Linked DNA regions of Homo sapiens. The protein of the gene in region 3 interacts with the protein of the main gene of each other region in a biochemical or structural test. Each region holds a gene or a part of one and is shown on either strand. Other genes may lie near its edges.

Evidence for each region.
Region 1: the proteins of EGLN1 (region 3) and MAGI3 interact in a test that uses a peptide from one of them, tested with the Homo sapiens proteins (one large-scale study listed by IntAct).
Region 2: the proteins of EGLN1 (region 3) and FRMPD2 interact in a test that uses a peptide from one of them, tested with the Homo sapiens proteins (one large-scale study listed by IntAct).
Region 4: the proteins of EGLN1 (region 3) and IL16 interact in a test that uses a peptide from one of them, tested with the Homo sapiens proteins (one large-scale study listed by IntAct).

What each region holds. Positions count from the first base shown.
Region 1 is NC_000001.11:113,641,014-113,645,514, reverse strand, and holds part of MAGI3 (membrane-associated guanylate kinase, WW and PDZ domain-containing protein 3), read right to left. Parts: intron 3,605-4,501; coding exon 2,999-3,604; intron 1,773-2,998; coding exon 1,741-1,772; intron 1-1,740.
Region 2 is NC_000010.11:48,240,197-48,244,697, forward strand, and holds part of FRMPD2 (FERM and PDZ domain-containing protein 2), read right to left. Parts: intron 2,157-4,501; coding exon 1,965-2,156; intron 297-1,964; coding exon 164-296; intron 1-163.
Region 3 is NC_000001.11:231,366,761-231,372,264, forward strand, and holds part of EGLN1 (egl nine homolog 1), read right to left. Parts: intron 3,939-5,504; coding exon 3,802-3,938; intron 3,084-3,801; exon of another isoform or gene 2,794-3,083; intron 877-2,793; coding exon 809-876; exon of another isoform or gene 807-808; intron 1-806. UniProt on the Homo sapiens protein: Cellular oxygen sensor that catalyzes, under normoxic conditions, the post-translational formation of 4-hydroxyproline in hypoxia-inducible factor (HIF) alpha proteins.
Region 4 is NC_000015.10:81,296,878-81,301,378, reverse strand, and holds part of IL16 (pro-interleukin-16), read right to left. Parts: exon of another isoform or gene 4,452-4,501; coding exon 4,301-4,451; intron 2,076-4,300; coding exon of another isoform or gene 2,032-2,075; exon of another isoform or gene 2,000-2,031; coding exon 904-1,999; intron 36-903; coding exon 1-35. UniProt on the Homo sapiens protein: Interleukin-16 stimulates a migratory response in CD4+ lymphocytes, monocytes, and eosinophils. Primes CD4+ T-cells for IL-2 and IL-15 responsiveness. Also induces T-lymphocyte expression of interleukin 2 receptor. Ligand for CD4.

The sequences.
Region 1 (4,501 bases), about 120 Mb from region 3:
AAGCATTAGGGCCACTGCGACTGCAGTGGCATCCATTATGAAATAAATATGGTGGCACAGGAGTTAAAAATGATTACTAGAGGAACCAGAGAAATGTAGAATACAGTGCAATTTGAACTGAATGGACAAAAACAATTTCTGTTCACACTGGACCCAAGTAGTATAAGCAGTCAATGAAAAGGGCAGAAGCTGGCCGGGCGCAGTGGCTCATGCCTGTAATCCCAGCACTTTGGGAGGCCGAGGTGGGCAGATCACCTGAGGTCAGGAATTTGAGACCAGCCTAGCCAATGTAGTGAAACTCCATCTCTACCAAAAATATAAAAATTAGCTGCGTGTGGTGGCGTGCACCTGTAATTCCAGCTACTGGGAGGCTAAGGCACAAGAATTGCTTGAACCTAGGCGGCAGAGGCTGCAGTGAGCCAAAATCACACCACTGCATTCCAGCCTGGGTGATGGAGTGAGACTCTGTCTCAAAAAAAAAAAAAAAAAAAAGGCCAGAAGCTGAGGGATTCTTTTTAATCTATAAAACAGCAAATTTGCAGAGGATTCCTACTTGGTGGGCTAGAAAGAACTAATTCATTTAATATAATTGTCTATAGTTTATGGTTATGGAAGGCCATCTTTTGATTTTGAGATAAAAGACTCCAAAGGAGCAAACTAGAACTAAATTAGAATTTTAAATAAAATTGTCTTTATATCCAAAACATTGTGGATATTTAAATAGCTACAAATGTGCACCTTGTAGAGTTTCTTCCACAACAGCAGCATTTGATGCACTCCTTTTTAAAGTTCTTATTCTCTGCACAGGTCCTTAAACAGGCTACGTGATTATTTAGAAGAATGCCAAAGAAGACACTGTTTCAGGTCTTTCACTTTGACAACAAGCAAATTTAGCATAGAAGGCCACAATTACTCTAGAAAGTCTTGTTTAGTCAGCCGGACGTGGTGTATCATGCCTGTAATCCCAGCACTTTGGGAGGCCGAGGCGGGCAGATCATGAGGTCAAGAGATTGAGACCATCCTAGCCAACATGGTGAAACCCTGTCTCTACTAAAAATACAAAAAAATTAGCTGGGTGTGGTGGCGTGCACCTGTAGTCCCAGCTACTTGGGAGGCTGAGGCAGGAGAATCGCTTGAACCCCGGAGGCGGAGGTTGCAGTGAGCCGAGATAGCGCCACTGCACTCCAGCCTGGGCGACAGAGCAAGACTCCGTCTCAAAAAATAAATAAATAAATAAAAAATAAATAATAAAAAAATAAGCCTAATTTAGTCTTAAAAGTAAGAAGATTATCTAAAGGTGCATGCATATTTATAGTCCCCACAAAATTATGTGAACTAGTACGTCTTCTCTTCAGGCAGGGGCAAGACGATGTAATAGTTTATCATCTGTCTTAACATTTAGGTCCTTCCTACCTTGTTTCTCTGAAACACAAAAGTAAAAAGACCTCTAGGTTGGTTCTTTAATGTGTTCACATTTTATAACTTAGAGAACAGGATTATTGGTACAATAGGCCTTTAGTAATCCTCCAGTTGCAATACTTAACCAGTGGAGCACATCTCCTCACTAGGGGGCTTTTTCAAACGCTTCCCTAGTTTCTAATAAATACAAGCCAAGGGCAGCATGCCTCCTAACTTCTCCCAGTCGATAATCATCACCACAGTGAGCTCCTCTTACAGAGGGGAATGTGGCATCTCTCTCAGTGTGTTGGGGAAAAGATTTGAGGACCAGTGTATACTCACCATTTTGGCAGTTTTGGTTGGTGAAGGAGGACCTTAAAAAAAAAATGAACCAAAGTTTAAAACCAGAGGATGCATTCCCAGATCACAAATACTGCTAATGTTTACGATAAAACTAGCTTCAACTTTTAGTACGCTAGTAAATTCTGTGTCTAACCTCCTATGTACCAGGCATTATACATATATTATCTCATTTCATTTTTATAACAATCTGAAGGCACAAATGTTATGACCATCTTACAGAGAAGGTAAACTAAGATTCTTTCCTATACCAAAGAACCAGTAAGTGGCAAGGCAGGAAACTGACATCAAACCTGTGTGACATTGAACTTTGGTGTCTTTGTTATACTTGTTGAAGCCCTGGATTACTCTCAAGCACTCACAAAGAGATTTCTACCTTACTTGGAGCACATTCCACCATCACTCAGAGAAGAAACCCATGTGAATCAAAGAAACGAGAATAAGAAACAACTCCCAAAGAAGCTGAAGTGCTCGTTTGCCTCAATAGTGAAAAGTAAAATCCAGAGAGATAAAAGAGTAAGTGGCTTTTATTCTTTAAGATACTAGTCACTTATAAGTATGGATTTAAGAAAGCATATTAAAATTCAACTTTGTGATTATTCCTTGGAACTGAATTTGTAAATGTCTGGGAGGAGTTCATGTCAGCTGATGACCTTGGAAAATAAAAATTATATTTCTCTCACATAAGCACTGTGTGGTTTAATTAACATTTACAGTCAGATACTAGAGCTTAAGATGAAAACTTTATGAGCACATGCTATCATGATTGCCTCTGCAGAACAGATTAATACACCATCCAACATTTTACTTATCCACAGAGATGCTAGCTCTTTCAAAACATCTTTGGTGCATTACAGAGGTCCAGATGACACACCATTGGTTGAAAGAGTCAATTTCTATTACTGTCATCAACAGAGAAATGAAATTAAGAGGATGTATTTCATTTGAAGTATCACAATGCTGTGACTCTCTCTAATCATTAAAGCCATGAATCAGATTTTCAAAAGAATACAGAGGGAAATAAATCCATAATGGACATGAATGAAATCACTAATAATTTTTTAAAAACTGCTGAAAAAGACACTGCTTATGGAAACAATCAGACAGAACCTTAAGGAAAATGCACACTAATTACTAGTTAAGTCTGCTGGGAAAACACATTCTAAACTGTAAGGAAAGACAATCAGTAGATATAAACGCTTGAACACTGAAACTTTTTCTATGTTGTGCTTTTACTTACCTCCTCTTAAGATAAGCAATGGTACATCAGCACCTACTGGAAACTGCTTTAGCACCTCTACCACTTGGAGATGTGTTAAATTCTGCACATTTTGATGGTATATTTCCTTAATTATATCTCCTTTCTGAAGGCCTTGACACCACTGACTATCCAGTATCATTTTCACCTTCTGTCCAGTAGGGCTGTCAGCAATTGCAAACCCAAACCCTTTAGGGCCCTTAATCAAAGGGATAGTCACTAGTTCAGGCTGGGAGCTGCCTGACGATGCCATGGATACTCTCTGCTCACTTGCATCTGATGGTCCATTGAGACCATCACCAGTCAAAGTGTGTCCCGATTTTCCATTCTGCTCCAGAACCATTGCTCCTGGCTTAAAATCCTGAGGATTCATGCAAGTCTCTCCCTTGGTTAATGACTGTCCATTGATGACAGGGGTAGCAGCAACAATGTCCACAACAGGATCTTCACTGTCATCAGGAAGTGGATAACCACGACATAAAGTGAGGTTTACATACTGATTGACAGGTACCAATTGAAACATCTGGACAACATCTGCATGAGTGTGACCGAGGACACAGTTGCCATTGATGTCTACAATAACATCGCCTGGAAAAACATAATCATGTTAAAAATATTAAAATCAACAAATAAGTTAATTTTTTTGCTAGAGGGGCAAAAATAACTACAATTTAGCAACTAAATTTGAATTTTGGAAACCTCTATTAACTGCTGAAAAGATAGATTTCTAACACAGACCTTCTCCCTTTTCTAACTCCTCTCTAAAATGTATGTATAAATGTCTAAAATCCTACTTATTTCAGTAGCAAAGAATTTTGACTTCAAGCTCAAGTGAATCATTAAAAAAAAAACCCTGATAATTTATATTATCATTGTTAGTATACCCTCTGAGTCATATCTAAGTATCCATGCAAAGCTAGGCACATTGCAGTAGGTATTTAGTACAGAAGCAAATAACTCCACTGACTACTTGTACAAACTGTATTATATTTTTTGAATAAATTAATTTTATTTATATATCTGTATGTATGTATATATACATACACTGAAAAAGACGCTGTCCTTAACCAAACTCTAGACAGGTTCCTCTGAGCTCTTTTTTCAGTAGGCCTCATCCTTGGCATGTCCTCCAGAGCCCAGCTTTAGCAGGAATCCTGCTAAGTTGGTTTAGCCAGAATCACCCACTCTTGATATATGATCTAAGTCCTCATTCCCCACCATTCTCCAGGTGATTACCTGATCACCTCAGCCTGCATTCAGCAAGAATCCTGTCAAGTTCCTATAGCCCCTATAGCCAGAAATCCTCCTCCACCCCTGATATATATATAGATTTATATATATCTCATATATATTTATATATCATATATATAATATATATCTCATATATATTTATATATCATATATATAATATATATCTCATATATATTATATATATCATATATAATATATCATATATATTATATATATCATATATATTATATATCA
Region 2 (4,501 bases), on a different chromosome or scaffold from region 3:
GAGTCCTAAGCTCAGCCCCTTCTCTTCAGGGGCTTCCTGAAAGAGTGGCACTTACATAGGCTTTCTCTGCCATCACAATGTGGATGTGTAGCCCATACAGGGCAGGAAAAAATAGAATGGGTACCATCAGCCCACGCAGGGACTGCTTAGGGCACGTACCCACCTCTGCAAGGATGCAGACACTCCGGGGCCTGTGCCGCTGGGCTCTCGCTGCTTGTCCCACGCAGCCTCTTCCTGAGCAGGTAGCTTCTGTTCTGCTGCACAGAGGAGCTTTCCTCCACAACTCTTTTCTCCACCTGGGGGTCAAGTGCATCACACATCCACATCCCAAGATAAGGAGGGGGCGTTTTTATAGATACATGCAAACTGGCTGTCAGACTGAATCAATGTGGAATTGTCTGCCCTATACGGTGACCTAAAGATGTGTTCTCTGGCACCCAGAATGTGCTCTGTGCCCACCCCCTGCATGCACCCTGAAGGCACTTCACTCCCCACTCCAGACCTGCACACTCACACACATCTGTGCCTTTGCTCATGCATTCCCTCCATGGCTACAGCCTCCCCAGAAGCTCCTCTGTGCCCACAAGACCCAGAGCTGTGTGCTTTCTACTTCTAAGCCTCTCTACCTCTGCCGTCTGATCACCTTCCCTTATCACTGCACTCACACCTGGCTCTGTTGCATCATGTTCCATGAGTGTGCTGCTTGTCTGTCTCCCCCAACATCTCTGTGTGCTTTATGCACCACCGTAGCACACCTAATGCAGTGCCCAATGAATGTTGAATACGTGACTGACATCTACCTTGCAGATCCCTGACGGAAATGTTGCAGGTCAGTACACTGTCTATCCAAGGACAATGGCACACCAGTGGATGGTAGACCTCAGTATCTTTCAAATAAATATAGTCCATTTCCCCCACCAAATCCTCTGGCTCAATTCATAGGAGCCACATGTTCCTATGCCAAGAGAGAAGGGGTCCAAGAAGGAGGCCTTCTCTGATGGCAGAGGCCTTCTCTGATTGACTGTTGCCGCTGTCCACCCTGCTGTCCCCACATCTCCATCCACTTTGGCCCTCATTAATCCTGCTCTCAGCTCTCCAACTTGTCCCTGGACAAGTGCAGCCACTCAACTGGCCTCTAGCTTACCTGTCTCTGGTTCCTCCCAAATACAAACTTCCTTACATTTTGTGCCATAGGCACCTCACTTGCCCATCCTATCCCAGCTCCACTCAGGTCTCATGGGGGACCAACTCCATGGTGCCATTCCTGCAACAGAGCTCCCCAGGGGGCCAGGCTGGGCCTGTCTCCAGCTGAGACTATATCCTTCAACTTGTCAGCTGTACTACCATCACTCCCCTCTCCCAGGAACATTTCCCCAGTAAATAACTTGCACAAGAATCCCTGTCTCTGGGTTAGCTTGGAGGGAATCCAACCTAAGCCAAATGCCTCCCATGTGCCAGGCCCCTTGCTGCACTCTGTGGAGTGCACAGGGCAGCAAGCAGCACAGTGTGACAAGCACAACAAAGGACACCCCACAGGTATAAAATAGCAGAGGGGAGGGTACCCAGGGACCACAAAAACGAAGTCGGGGAAGGCTTCTGTGCAGAACCTAGAGTTGAATTTTGATAAGAAAACTGAATCATGGGTTCTAAACATTATTGCTTTATGTAAGGACGCACTTGCAAAGATGTCAAGGGTCTTAGCCATGTGACAAACTGGGGCTTGCCTAAAGGTCTTTGTTAGCACTGCCCAATAGAACTGCAATGACAAGAATGTTCTAGATCCACCCTGTTCAATAGGGTCATCACCTGCTACGAGTGGCAACGGAGCACTTGAAATGTGACAGATGTGACTGATTAATTTAATTTTTTATTTTATTTTAGTTAATGATAATATAACTAATTCAAATTTTAATAGCCACACATGACCAGCAGCTACTGCTTGAAAAGCACGGTTCTCTACTGACCTCAGAAATGGTACCCAGAACCAAGCCAACCAGCCTTCTGATGTGGAGACCAGCAGGGGCTGGGTAGACAGACACTTCTTTCTCATGAACCCGACAAGCTTCCAGAACCGACTGCAACGTGCACCGCCTGTGAGGCTGGTCTTCACACATGGTCAGCAGGATGGAGTGCAGGGGCTCGCAGAGCTGCAGGGGCTGGAGGCAGACAGGGCCGGTGAGAGGAGAGAGCAGCCAGAGCTGCCACTACGAGGCCAGCACCTTGTCAGGCAGGCCTTGGAGACATGGAAACGGGTGTTCCCACAAGCACCAGAGCAGATGCCTGCCCCTTCTGGAGAGTTTAAGGACAGACACAAGATCCATCACTGAGGCCGCAAAGTGCGGAGCAATCATCTCTGCAGCAATTCTGTGTTGTCTGCTGCTTTCTAAACCAGAACATCCTTCTGCCCAAGCACATGCTTGGAATGCTCATGAAAACTAGATGCTTTGACAAGATGGATTTCCACCTGTGCCAAGCACCCCAAATCAAACCAGAGGTCAGCCTTTCACTCAAGTTCACCTGCGTAGCTTGTCATTGTATCCAATCACTCAGGGGGTCTCACTTGGCCTTTCCCCTGGAATGTGAGCTCCTGGAACATACAGACTGTGGCCTATTCCTGTTCACTTCGGAACAGCCAGCAGTCAGCACAAATGCTCAATCGTTGTTGGTTGAACTTTATGTCACGTGTACACATCGAGCAAAAGAAAACAGAAGCATCTTATAAGCATTTCCCTCATGCATTTAAATGACCACAATTCATAGGAGAAAGTCCTCAAATTCAGATTCAAAATCAGACTTTTTCTCAAGCTCAACACACACTGCAGGTCACTTTCCAGATAAAGGCTGCACTACCGCTTCTTGCTGGGGAGCATCAGCTGTGAGCACCTATCTCTGTGTACAGCCAAGCTGCTGAGTCCTGCCGTCACAGTAAATCCAGGCGTCTTTTGTGCCTGGTGCTGCACAGCCACACCAGATACAGTCCCTGCCTTCAGGAAAATAATGGTGTGATGAGAGAGACGGTCACTAAAAGAGACAAAGACCATAGAGGATGACAAGGACTTTCACCTTGGGAAGCACAGGCCATGGCACTAATGTAGAGGAAGGGGCTTAGCCAAGGCTAGAGTTAACCAAGAGGAAAGTGGGGAGTGAGGTGCTGGTGAAGGGATCCGTGTGTACAAAGGCACGAAGATGCAGATGAGCTGACATGCATCTGAAGGGAAGGGGATTATGAGCAGGACAGGGGCCTGGGGGAAAATAGCAATGTGGGGTCCCTTGTTCAAAATTATTAAGAATTCCAGGACAGTGATAGCAGAGCATTAAACTAAGTGCAGGACCCTGTGCTATGACACAGGGTCACACACTCAGGACACACACCCAGGAAGCCGGTCCTGATTATGGCAGAGTGCCAAAGGGGAACCAGACGGGAGCAGGGACCCTATCCTAGGCTCCAGGTGTGTCTCACTGAGAAGTCAGAAGGCAACCCCACGGCCAGTGAGGCGTTACAAAAGGTTGCATGTGAGAGTGGTCGTGAGCTGGTCTCTTAGAAAGACCACCCAGGAAGAGCCCGGATGTTGAATTGGAGAGGGTCGGGGTGAGTAGAAAGAAAGGCAGGAAGGAAGGGAGGAGGAGGGAGGGATCCAGTCTAGCCAGGTCAGCTAGGCAGGGCTCTCCAGCAGGTGTTCTTGTGGCACCAGTCTCTAAGGAATTGTTATAGTATCAGATGGAAATGTACACAAACACTTCTATTCTGTAGTTGAAAATTGTGTAAAATATTAGGATATTTTTATGTAGTTCTTTTTTGAGACAGGGTTTTGCTCTGTTGCCCAGGCTGGAGTGCAGTGGTTTGATCTCCACTCACTTCAACCTTCCCCTCCCGGCCCCCGGGGTTTAAGCGATTCTCATGCCTCAGCCTCCCAAGTAGCTGGGACTATAGGCATACACCACCACACCCAGCTAATTTTTTTATTTGTAGTAGAGACAGGGTTTTGCCATGTTGGCCAGGCTTGTCTCGAACTCCTGAGCTCAAGTGGTCTCCCCACCTCAGCCTCCCAAAGTGCTGGGACTATAGGCGTGAGCCACCATGGCCAGCCAGGATAAAGTTAAGTTTCTAAGCTTTAAGCCTTCTTGTAGTTTTTAAAAAATGACTCTAAAAAATCTTTGAGAGGGAGATATTGTAGGGAGCATTTACCCAAATCTATTGAGCCCAGAAGCCTTTTTCAGGGAAGCATCTCACTTTGGGAAGGGTTGTTTTAAAGCCTTTTTAAAATATATGTAAATCTGTATCTTCAGTGTCTATAAAATTCTCTAGCTTGCTATTAATACTTCCTCTGAGCGGAGATGGCCAAACTTATCCTGCTTGCCAGTCCCAAATTGTGGCTGCCTGGAGTGCTATGTTGAGTGGGATTCTGAGGTTGTTTCTGCACTAGCAGGAAGGAGTTGTGTGATAAGTTCTCAACGCCTGCCTAGGACCTAGAGGACGGGAGAGTGGCATTATGTGTGCTCA
Region 3 (5,504 bases):
CTCTGAAAGCACACTGAGCTTGTGCCACAAATAATGGCTTTAAAAATACATAGAAAATGCATGAATATTCCATTTTTATGTAAGGTCGACGTGCGATTAGCAATGGCTCTGGAAAACACAGCTAATCAGTAATGTGAATACTCAGTGGATTTTTGGAGATAGAAAGTAGAGTTAAAGAAAAGAAGGTAAGTGGTCCATCAGATGGGAAACAGACCCCCTGCTCTTGGAGAGGCAGTCCATAAGTGGAAGAGAAGGGGAACTGGCATAATTAAAGGATCTTCAGGTTCAGTACAAGAGTGCTGACCTATGTACACCATTAGCAGATATGGAATCTACATGTCTGTGTCATTTACTGATTTTGGCATTTGAATTCATAATTCTTTGTATTAATTTTCTTCATGTCTACATTTAACATGGAAGACCTAGAGTACTGTTTAGAGCACATCCATTTGAAAAGGAAAGGGTATTAATTTAAGGAGTGAATGAGAGGAAACCATATGGCCGTTACCTAGAGTTAAGTGGCCTTTGACTGAAAAGGATAATCACAGAAAACTCAGTTTGTATGTGAATAATTTACTCAGACTTCTTTGCCTCAAATTTTCCACATCCTTTGACAATTTTTTTGGTTAAAGATAACAGTGAAGATGACTTATGTCTTCTTAAAAAATGAGGCAAATAAGAAATCTGATAAAAAACAAAAAGTAAGTATTCATGGTGTTAACAAAGACTATGCTTGAGTTTCCTGAAAGCATCACCTGATTGCAGGGTATTTCTGTACCAATATATCCTGGCCCCAAATGACGTTTACCTGTTAGATATTTTACTTTAGCTCGTGCTCTCTCATCTGCATCAAAATACCAAACAGTTATTGCGTACCTAAAAGAAAATTTAGAATAGGATAAGAATGATCACACTGCGGGGAAAAAGTGGTATTTTGCTGCAATGGTATATTAAAACTTGTAATGCCAAAATTATGCCTAAACTGGAATGATATCAAAGGATAAATTTAACAGCTTATTTATACAGTAACCAGGGGAGACTAAAATTGATGTCTGAAGTTGATGAGTTTTTGTGACTTTCTTAATACTTATTTCAACTACTTATTTTTTGCAAGGGAACTGCAGATCAGAAAGAGACAATAGGCCGGGCACAGTGGCTCACGCCTGTAATCCCAGCACTTCGGGAGGCCGAAGTGGGTGGATCATGAAGTCAGGACTTCGAGACCAACCTGGCCAATAGGGTGAAACCCCATCTCTACTAAAAAAAAGAAAAAAAAAATTAGCCGTGCATGGTGGCACATGCCTGTAGCCCTAGCTACTCAGGAGGCTGAGAGGCAGGAGAATCGCTTGAACCCGGGGAGGCGGAGGTTGCAGTGAGCCGAGATCATGCCACTGCACTCCAGCCTAGGTGACAGAGTGAGCCTCCCTCTAAAAAAAAAGAGAGACAATAAAAGGGTAAAAGAATGGCTGTTACAGAAAAAGCACATTATCAATAGCACAAGTACTAAAAGAACAGAAAAGAAACAGATAAAAGGACTCAGGGCATTGCAGGCTAACAGTTTCAACAGTCTCTGGGGACATCACTACATTATAGCAAAGAGTAATGATGGATGTTTACAATTATAACCTTGACAGTTAAATTATGCTAAGAATTTTTAAGGATTTTAATCAAAGCAATTATACTGTGTTTTGTGTTTAAACTTTGTCTAAACTTCATTTTTCTGAAAATCTGACTTAGAATATTTCATTCCACCAATAAGTGAGGCATCTCTAGTTTATTAAATACTACAAAAGACATACTTTCTGATACAAATAATGGGGAAAATGTATAAACGCTATAGGAAGTGAAAGTACGCTACAAATCACCAGTTCCTGGGCAGAATATAGCAATTAGTTCAAATATATTGTGGATTGTGGCCAGTGGACACAGGGGAAAAGGCAACATTTATCAGACATACAGCCAGTAATATGACAGAATGAAAAATCACATAATGTATTTTGAAGTAAAGAGTCTGGGAGTTTGGACAACTGGGAGCCTGACGTTTACAGACCCCACCACTGGTGAATCACAGAGCTGAGGTCTAAGGAGGTCTCCTGACTTCCAGACCAGACTCTGCTCTTTCCAGAGTTCCACTACCTTTCTTACCATGTGGCTTCTTCTACTTTTGGGTGGCCTTGGAAATAGGAAAGGGCTCAGATACATAATTTTATGTATCTTTTGCCCATGCCCTAAACTTTTAGTCACTTAGCAATCAGAATTCTAATATCTGGATCAACAACTTACCTTATGTCATTCTAACTTTCCAGCCTTATCACCCATTCTAGATAAGATCAGAATAGGATTCTACTTCAAGAATCCTTTTCGTCGCATGATTTTCCATGCCTTAACTTGAACAACTACGCCTTTTCCCCCAGAACTTTACTAACACGACTGCACCCCTTGCCTCTCCTCACCTAGGCCAGCTGAGCCTCTCCCTTCAAAGCGCACTTGCCCGTCTCTCCAATGTAGCACCACCTTCGTTCCTCAACTCCTGTAGCACTTAGCCTCCATGCCATCTGGCATTTATTTACTATAAACTCCCAAGTATCTGTTATTTATTCATCTAAAAAGGACGTAACCAAACCAAACTCAGGATTTCATAAAAAGGAAGGTCTATGAGGCAGTTACTGTGTCAGAAAATCTTTACAGAAGCAGCAGGGGGCAGAGACAGCACTGGGATGCCACTGGGAAGAGACATGGGATTGAAAAGGGCACATCATGTGATGTGACAGTCTTTCTTTGGTTTCCATTCAGGATTTCTTACAATCTCCAGCTACAACCTGCTTAGCTTGCTACTCAGTACGTGAATTAGGATGCAGGCAACACACCTCAGAAGGCAGGAAGAAAAAAGGCACAGCTGATAATCAAGTCGTTAGAGTCAACCATCATTACTAAAGCCAACTCTCCACCCAGCGCATCTAAGCCTGTGCCTCTTCTTGCCACCCTAGCATCTCCTAAGCCAGATACAGCAAATGAATGCCGGAAGCTCACTATCAGAATGTTCCAAGACCTTTCCATAATAAAAAATAAGTATTTTTTTTTAATGTGCTATTTTTCTACAAATATTTACTTTCATGATAATGTCTACAATATCTTGTTTTCACAGCCAGAGCATTTTAATTGAGTCAGGATAAATGGTTTTTAAAAAAGCATTTGAAATAAAGCACTAAATATAATAGGTTGCAAATACCTTGTAGAAAAAGTATAATGAAACAGATGCTCATTATTTGTAAAGCTAATAGGATCATTTTTCTAACATTAACTCCCACACATGGTAACCTGTTCTCTACTTTTCTTTCTTCTGTTTTTCTCTTCACTTCTACTCTCTGGTTACCTCTGATTTTTCTACTCTGTATCCATTTTCCTATGTTGTCCCTCACCACCTTTTAAAAAACCCTTTTCCTTCTTGATCTTTCTCTCTCCCAAGTAAAATACTCTTACAAAAATCAAAGCATGGATAGTAGTTAAGAGATGCACAAAGCACGGAGAGAGTGCTAGAAAGATGGGAAGGCCTGTGCTTCCCTTTCTTCAGAGTGGCTGTGCAAAGAAAGACACATTTAGTACTAACTGTTAATGAGTCTTATATAATTATTTGAATTCAGATGACTGTGCAACATAAATCTTATACAATTATTCAAATTAAAATGACTGTGAAAAGTACCTGGCAGGAAAATACTCATTAGAAAGCTTTCACGTTTACTCTACAGATTCCCTCCTGTCCTACCATACTCTAAACCAATTTTTTCTGAAAAGGAATACTACCTTGTAGCATATGCTGGTTGTACTTCATGAGGGTTGCGACGGTCAGACCAGAAAAACAGCAGTCTATCAAATTTGGGTTCAATGTCAGCAAACTGGGCTTTGCCTTCTGGAAAAATTCGAAGTATACCTCCACTTACCTAGGAAAAGAGCCAAATATGTAAGCAGGAGTAACCAAAAATGCTACAAGATTAAATTTAGGGGGAAAAAAAGAGACAATTTCAATGTCTTAATTGGATTATTCACAAATACGTCTCAATAAAGTATGAAGATGAGCTGCAATTTTAAAAGTATATGCACTGATGCAAGGACAAATTTAGTTCTTATTTTAGGGATATTTATTTATTTATTGAGATGGAGTCTCGCTGTCACCCAGGCTGGAGTGCAGTGGCACAATCTCAGCTCACTGCAACCTCCGCCTCCTAGGTTCAAGCAATTCTCCTGTCTCAGCATCGCGAGTAGCTGGGATTACAGGCATGCGCCACCATGTCCAGCTAATTTTTGCATTTTTAGTAGAGATGGGTTTTCACCATGTTGGCCAGGCTGGACTCGAACTCCTGACCTCAGGTGATCTGCCCACCTCGGCCTCCCAAAGTGCTGGTATTACAGGTGTGAGCCACTGTCCCCAGCCATTTTAGGGATTTTTATAAATATCTGATGAAACACAAGAATGTTATCTGAATTTAAAAGTCTTAAAATGATGCTTGAAAGCTTTTAAAACTACTAAACGTTTATTTTTGTATGTTAATGATTTGCTTAACCCACCCTTCAAATAGATAGATTTCAAGAAATTTTGACAAAATTATTATTAGAAATAAATTATGTCAAATAGTTTACCATACTTTAAAATTCAATAAACAATAGGATAGTCACAAATACCTCTTACTTAAATAATTCAGTATATCAGTAGAAAGTGTCATCATTTATTATGACCATCATTATTGTCGTCGTCACCATCACCATCAGCATATAGTTCATTAGAACCTGTGGCTCTCCCTTTCCAGACTGGGCCTGATGCACAGATGACTACCTGCTTGTGAAACTTGATTCTACCCATAAAGGATTATTATTTACCTAAACACCAACTAGGCATCAAATCGCACTGGGAACTGTGGTGGGCTCTGGGTGCAGAGTAGGGAATAATGCAGACAGACTTTGTCCTTGCGGGGTTTACGATCTGGGGATAGGCAAAACCCAACCAACCAAGTAGCTCCTTACTCTTGAATAACTACACTCCTAAGCAGGTAGACTCTTAAAATTTAAAGAAACTCTAACACCTGGTCAGGACAACATGGCGTTTGAGCCTAAACCTAGAATCTATAGTTAAAGAAAAGGTTTATCAGGCTCACTGTCAGGTAAGTTAAATTCTAGCTACTTTGATACCCTTGCCAACCTTCCTCAGGTTCCAGTGTTGTTCAGAGTGATTCCCCAGGCTACTATGCAAACATCTAAAGAACCTCCAAACTGAGAACATGTCTTCTTTCCTTTTTTCCTGCTCCCTTCCCTTTGACTCAAGTCATTGGGAGTACCACAGGTGACCTGCTGAAAATGTTTTAAGTGAAATGGCTACTTGACACTTCCACTCTTCCTCCTCTGAATTAGGTGGCCCTCCTGTGTGCTCCATAGCAATCTGTCTTGACACTTTGCATAACTATCTGTAACTGTCAATCTTTCTGATCTGTATCCTCCAATAGATCCTAAGCTCT
Region 4 (4,501 bases), on a different chromosome or scaffold from region 3:
TGAGACCCTCTGTATATTCTCTCAGCTCTGAAAGGCTTTCATAAGGAGAAACAACACACAGTATGAACAACAATATTAAAAAGAGGTAACAGTGATTGTATAATTACTATGTCCCAGGTGTGGTGCCAAGCACTTATGTGCATATTATTTGATGCAACAAATCTATGAGTAGATACTAGCATACCTTCACTCTACAGATATTTCCCAGCAGTGTAAGAATAATAAATAAAACTAATAAATGCAGAGCTACTTTGATCAGAGGGAAGACCAAGCCCCAGCCCTACAGCAGGGACCCTATGGCACGTCTGACATCCTCTTGGTTCTGCATAGAAGGTCTCATCCATCTCCTAATTTCAACTGACAAGGAATCTGAGGGTGAGCATGGAAAGAACCTGCTCATAGTCAGAATCAGTGCCTAAGCTGAGACTAGGACCCAGACATCCTAACTCCCTGACGAGGGAGTTGAACCCACGTGCAGAGTACAAGTGGATTCCATTTGGAGAGTAAGAATTCCTGATGGATAATTTCCTGGCCTCATTCTGGTCTTTCTGAGTAACCGCAGGACATTTCAGATGTGCATCAACCTTCCAAATCTCCACAGGCGTATGTCAGCCCTCATGAGCAATTCACCAGGGAGCCAGTCCCACCTCCTACCTCCCAGCCCTCCTGAAGCCAGATGTTGTGAAAACTCCTCCTTAATGTGAAAGGCAGAGGTGTAATACCTACAGACAGACACACACACACTCAGACATCTGCACACACATGGAAAGAAAGAGGCAGAACAATTCTTTAATCAATATATCTGGGAATTTTTTAAATTATATATAGGATTATTTTTAAAAATAAAGATGAGAAAGAAAAAGATGAGAAAGGTAAAGAGAAACACCGGGTGTAGAAACTCACTTGAGCGAGAACCCTGTGTCCAAGGCAGATGTTTCAGCAGAACCATTTGCAGCTGAGTCTTCGTTGGATGATGATGTTGGAGATGCCCCTTCCTTGGGGATGCAGGGAGTCTGGGCACAGGAGATAGAAGATGGAAGGCACAGCAAGGATTTCATGACAGCCGATGACACTTGGCTGCTGATAGAATAGAGTTTGCTGGTCTTTTCGTCAAGTAGCTTCGTCTCACAGGACTGGGACCTGGTCAGGGGGAAGCTCCGTGCTCGCTGGCTAGGCATCTTGAGCACTGGGCCTTGAGATTCCTCAGCCTGTGTTGACAGCAGCCTTAGGAGCGGGTCCGGGCCAGGGGGGAGAGTTTTCTGATTGGGCTGCCGCCCTGGGGGAGGGGACTCAGACACACCTGGGTCTCTGGCCTCGGAGGCTGCAGGGGACCCCGAGGACAGTACTTGCTCAGGCTGCTGGGGCACAAGAGTGGGTGCAGCCCCTCGCCCCAAGAGTCCAGAAAACCGTCCTTCCTCATGCTTCCCAAGAGGTTTTGCTGCCTCCCCAGAGGAGGGCTGGAGGCTCAGTCTCTGGGCTCCTTTGTCAGGCAGTTGAGAGGAGCCAAAGGTTTCAAAGGAGCTGATTCTCTGCCTGATGGAGGAGGAGGAGGAGGAGGCCCGGATGTGTGATCCTAGGTGCTCCCTGGAAGCAGGTGCTGGCTGGGTGGACAAGGCAGGATCAGGGAGCCCTCTTGGGTCTGAAGCACGATTCCTCAAACCTTTCAAGCTTTGGCGAAACCAGGCTGGCTTGGGAGCCACAGGAGGACCTTTCTTCACAGTGCTGCTGTCTGCTGACTTGTAAACTTTGGGAGTGCCATTGGCGGTGTCCAGCTTTGGTGGGGTCCCATCTGGGTGGCCCTGTGTCCCTTCTTCTTCATTCAGGCTGGCATTGGGCTGTAGAGGCATGTGGCCATGGTTCTCACTCATGATGGGGCTAAATAAGTTTTTGATGCAGTCAGAAATCCTAACCCAAGGGTCTTCGGCTGTGGTATCAAAGCTATAGTCCATCCGAGCCTGCCTCTTAAGCAGTGGGTGTTTTATCGGGGATGTTTGGGTCACTACAGTGCAGAAACAAGGCCAAAGCTGTGCATTACATCATACAGTGACTTTTCTTCCTAAATTCTAGTTTCCAAGCTGAACAGCAAGAAGGATTCAAGAGGAGGAGATTAGCAGAAGTGGGGGACACCCAGGTGGGTGAACTCCAGGTGCTATTACCTGACTGAGCTGCCAACAGGCAGGAGTGAAGGACCAGAAGTAGGAGTTAATCTCACAGTATCCTAGTGTTTTAGGCCTGGAAGGGTGCTCAGAGAATATCTGGGCCGACCTCTGGCATATTACATTTCAAGAAGGGTAAGGGGCCATCTGATGGCAGTGCTCAGGCAAGACCCTGTGTCTCCTGACTCTTGAAGTTCATGTCCTTTCTACTGCACTAAGGAGCCTCCAAGATACCATGTTAAATGTGTAAAAGCCAAAGCAGTTCTCCTGCCGTTTAAACTTTTAAGACAAAGGTCATGAGTTGGCAGCTGTTTGTGCTTTGACCTACCCGTGTCATTAAAAACAAGGTGCCTGTGCACAGCTTCTGATGGGGCCACTTCGGCTTCCCACAGCTCTTCACGCTCCCTCTCACCCAGCCAGCATTTCCCATGTATGTACCTGCCTGGCCCTGAAGCCGTGTGTTTGCTGCTCTGCCTATACACAGGTCATTGATCAGCTTGCTCTCGGCAAAGGAGTGTTTTCCCTCCCTCAAAAGCTGATGAAAAGGTTCCAGGTAGAAAGGAATCTGTGAAGTAGGATTCTCCACCTTGGCTACATACTGGAATCTGGAGGGCCCTGAAAAATACTGACGCCCACCCCTAGGTACTGACTGAAGATACCTGGGATGCAGCCTGGGTGTTGGGAATGTGATGAGCAGGGGATTGCAATGTGCAACCTGCTCTGTGCCAGCCAGGACCTCAGGCATGCCCTGGAGCACATAGGAGTCTTTCTCAGAAGCCAGCATTGAACCAGCATCATATCTGCATGGGTAAGGGAGAGGGTGTCCTGGCTCTCTTTCCCAGGGGCAGAGGGAGGCTGGCCTGTGTGCCTTGGGGGATGCTTGCTACTGGAACGCAACCCAGTTGAAGGAACTCTGATCCCTCCTGTCCCTTGTCTCAATGCCAGGTTTCAAAAGAAGTGAATCATGGAGCATTACACCTTGATGATATCAAAGAGAAATTCTGCACAATCTAAGAGACTGGCCTTGGGCAAGTGAGCCCAGGCCTCCAGCCTGTTTCTGCATTTTTGAATGGCTTGGCTGTAAGGTGCTGTTGTGAGAATCAGGAGGCAGAGGTTCCACAGGCAAGCCCTTTGCAGATTGGAGTGACAACCTCCTGTCAGTTAAACACTGAGGCGTTTGCTTTTGCTAGAATGTTCCTCAATTAGGGTGACTAAGGGAGAGGAGCCTCCACCCACAGGGCCTCTGCTCTGGGTGAGATGTGCTAGATCTTTCCAAAATGTCCCTTAGCCCTCCAAAAGTCTTTCATGAGCTTTTCTGTAGTGTTACTCAAACAGTCATATGTTTTATAGTCTATATGTTTATTTCCTGCCACTACTAGTTGCTCCTTGGAGGCAGGACCTGACTACCTGGTCTCATCCCTTTCTCTCTCTCCCCCCAGCATCTAGCACAGGGCCTCACGAAGCCAGCATTCAATGTGTGCTTGCTGAATGCATCATATGCTTGGGGTCTACGTGCTCTTCCACACATTGCTGATGAGTGAATCTGGGCTCAGAAAGGCAAAGTAGGTTGCTCAGAATCATACTAATGACAGACAGATCCAGGATTCCCTGACTTCAAGTCCTATGCTCTCTCTAGCAAGCAAATAAATATTCAAGTCATGTCTTAGCATTGTCAGGTGTACCATGTGGACACACCCTTGCTATCCACCTCATGGAGGAGGTGACCACTGGTAGATGCTATTTATACTTTTCTGGCGTTGCATTCTCTGACTCAGAAATCCTGAATGCAGCAGGACTGTTGCAACTGGAATGTTGGCACCCTAGAGGTAGCTGCCCAGGATGGCTGGGTGGGTGTGTCTTTGGACCTCTTCCAAGGGCTCCATCCTCCCAATTATCCAGAATGGCCTGCATTCCTGCTGCCACCCCCACAGCATCACCCGTCCACCCAGGAGGCTCCCCACCCTGGACAGCACCTCCACGGTGCTGCTGCCCAGCACCTGGAACCCTTGACTGTTGATCAGCCAGGTCCAGTGGTGATGTCAATGCAGAGCACTCTGATCCTCAGGCCAATTTGTGCTCTTATCTTATCCCTGCACCTTTTTTCAAAAGACCCTTCCTTTTGGAAGATCTCAATGAAAGCTTACCTGGGCTGGCTCTTCTCCACCCTGGCTCGCCCTCTGTGGAGGACTTGGTCTGTGGGCCGATACCAGGTCCTGGGCAGCCGGCAGAGGCACTAGGGCTTCTCCCTGCTGTGTCTTCCTGTGGTAGCAGCAGTGGCAGCAGCTCTCTCGCTTCCTGTGGTGTAAACAGGAAGCGAGACCATGTCAAAACGGTAGCCTCAAGCT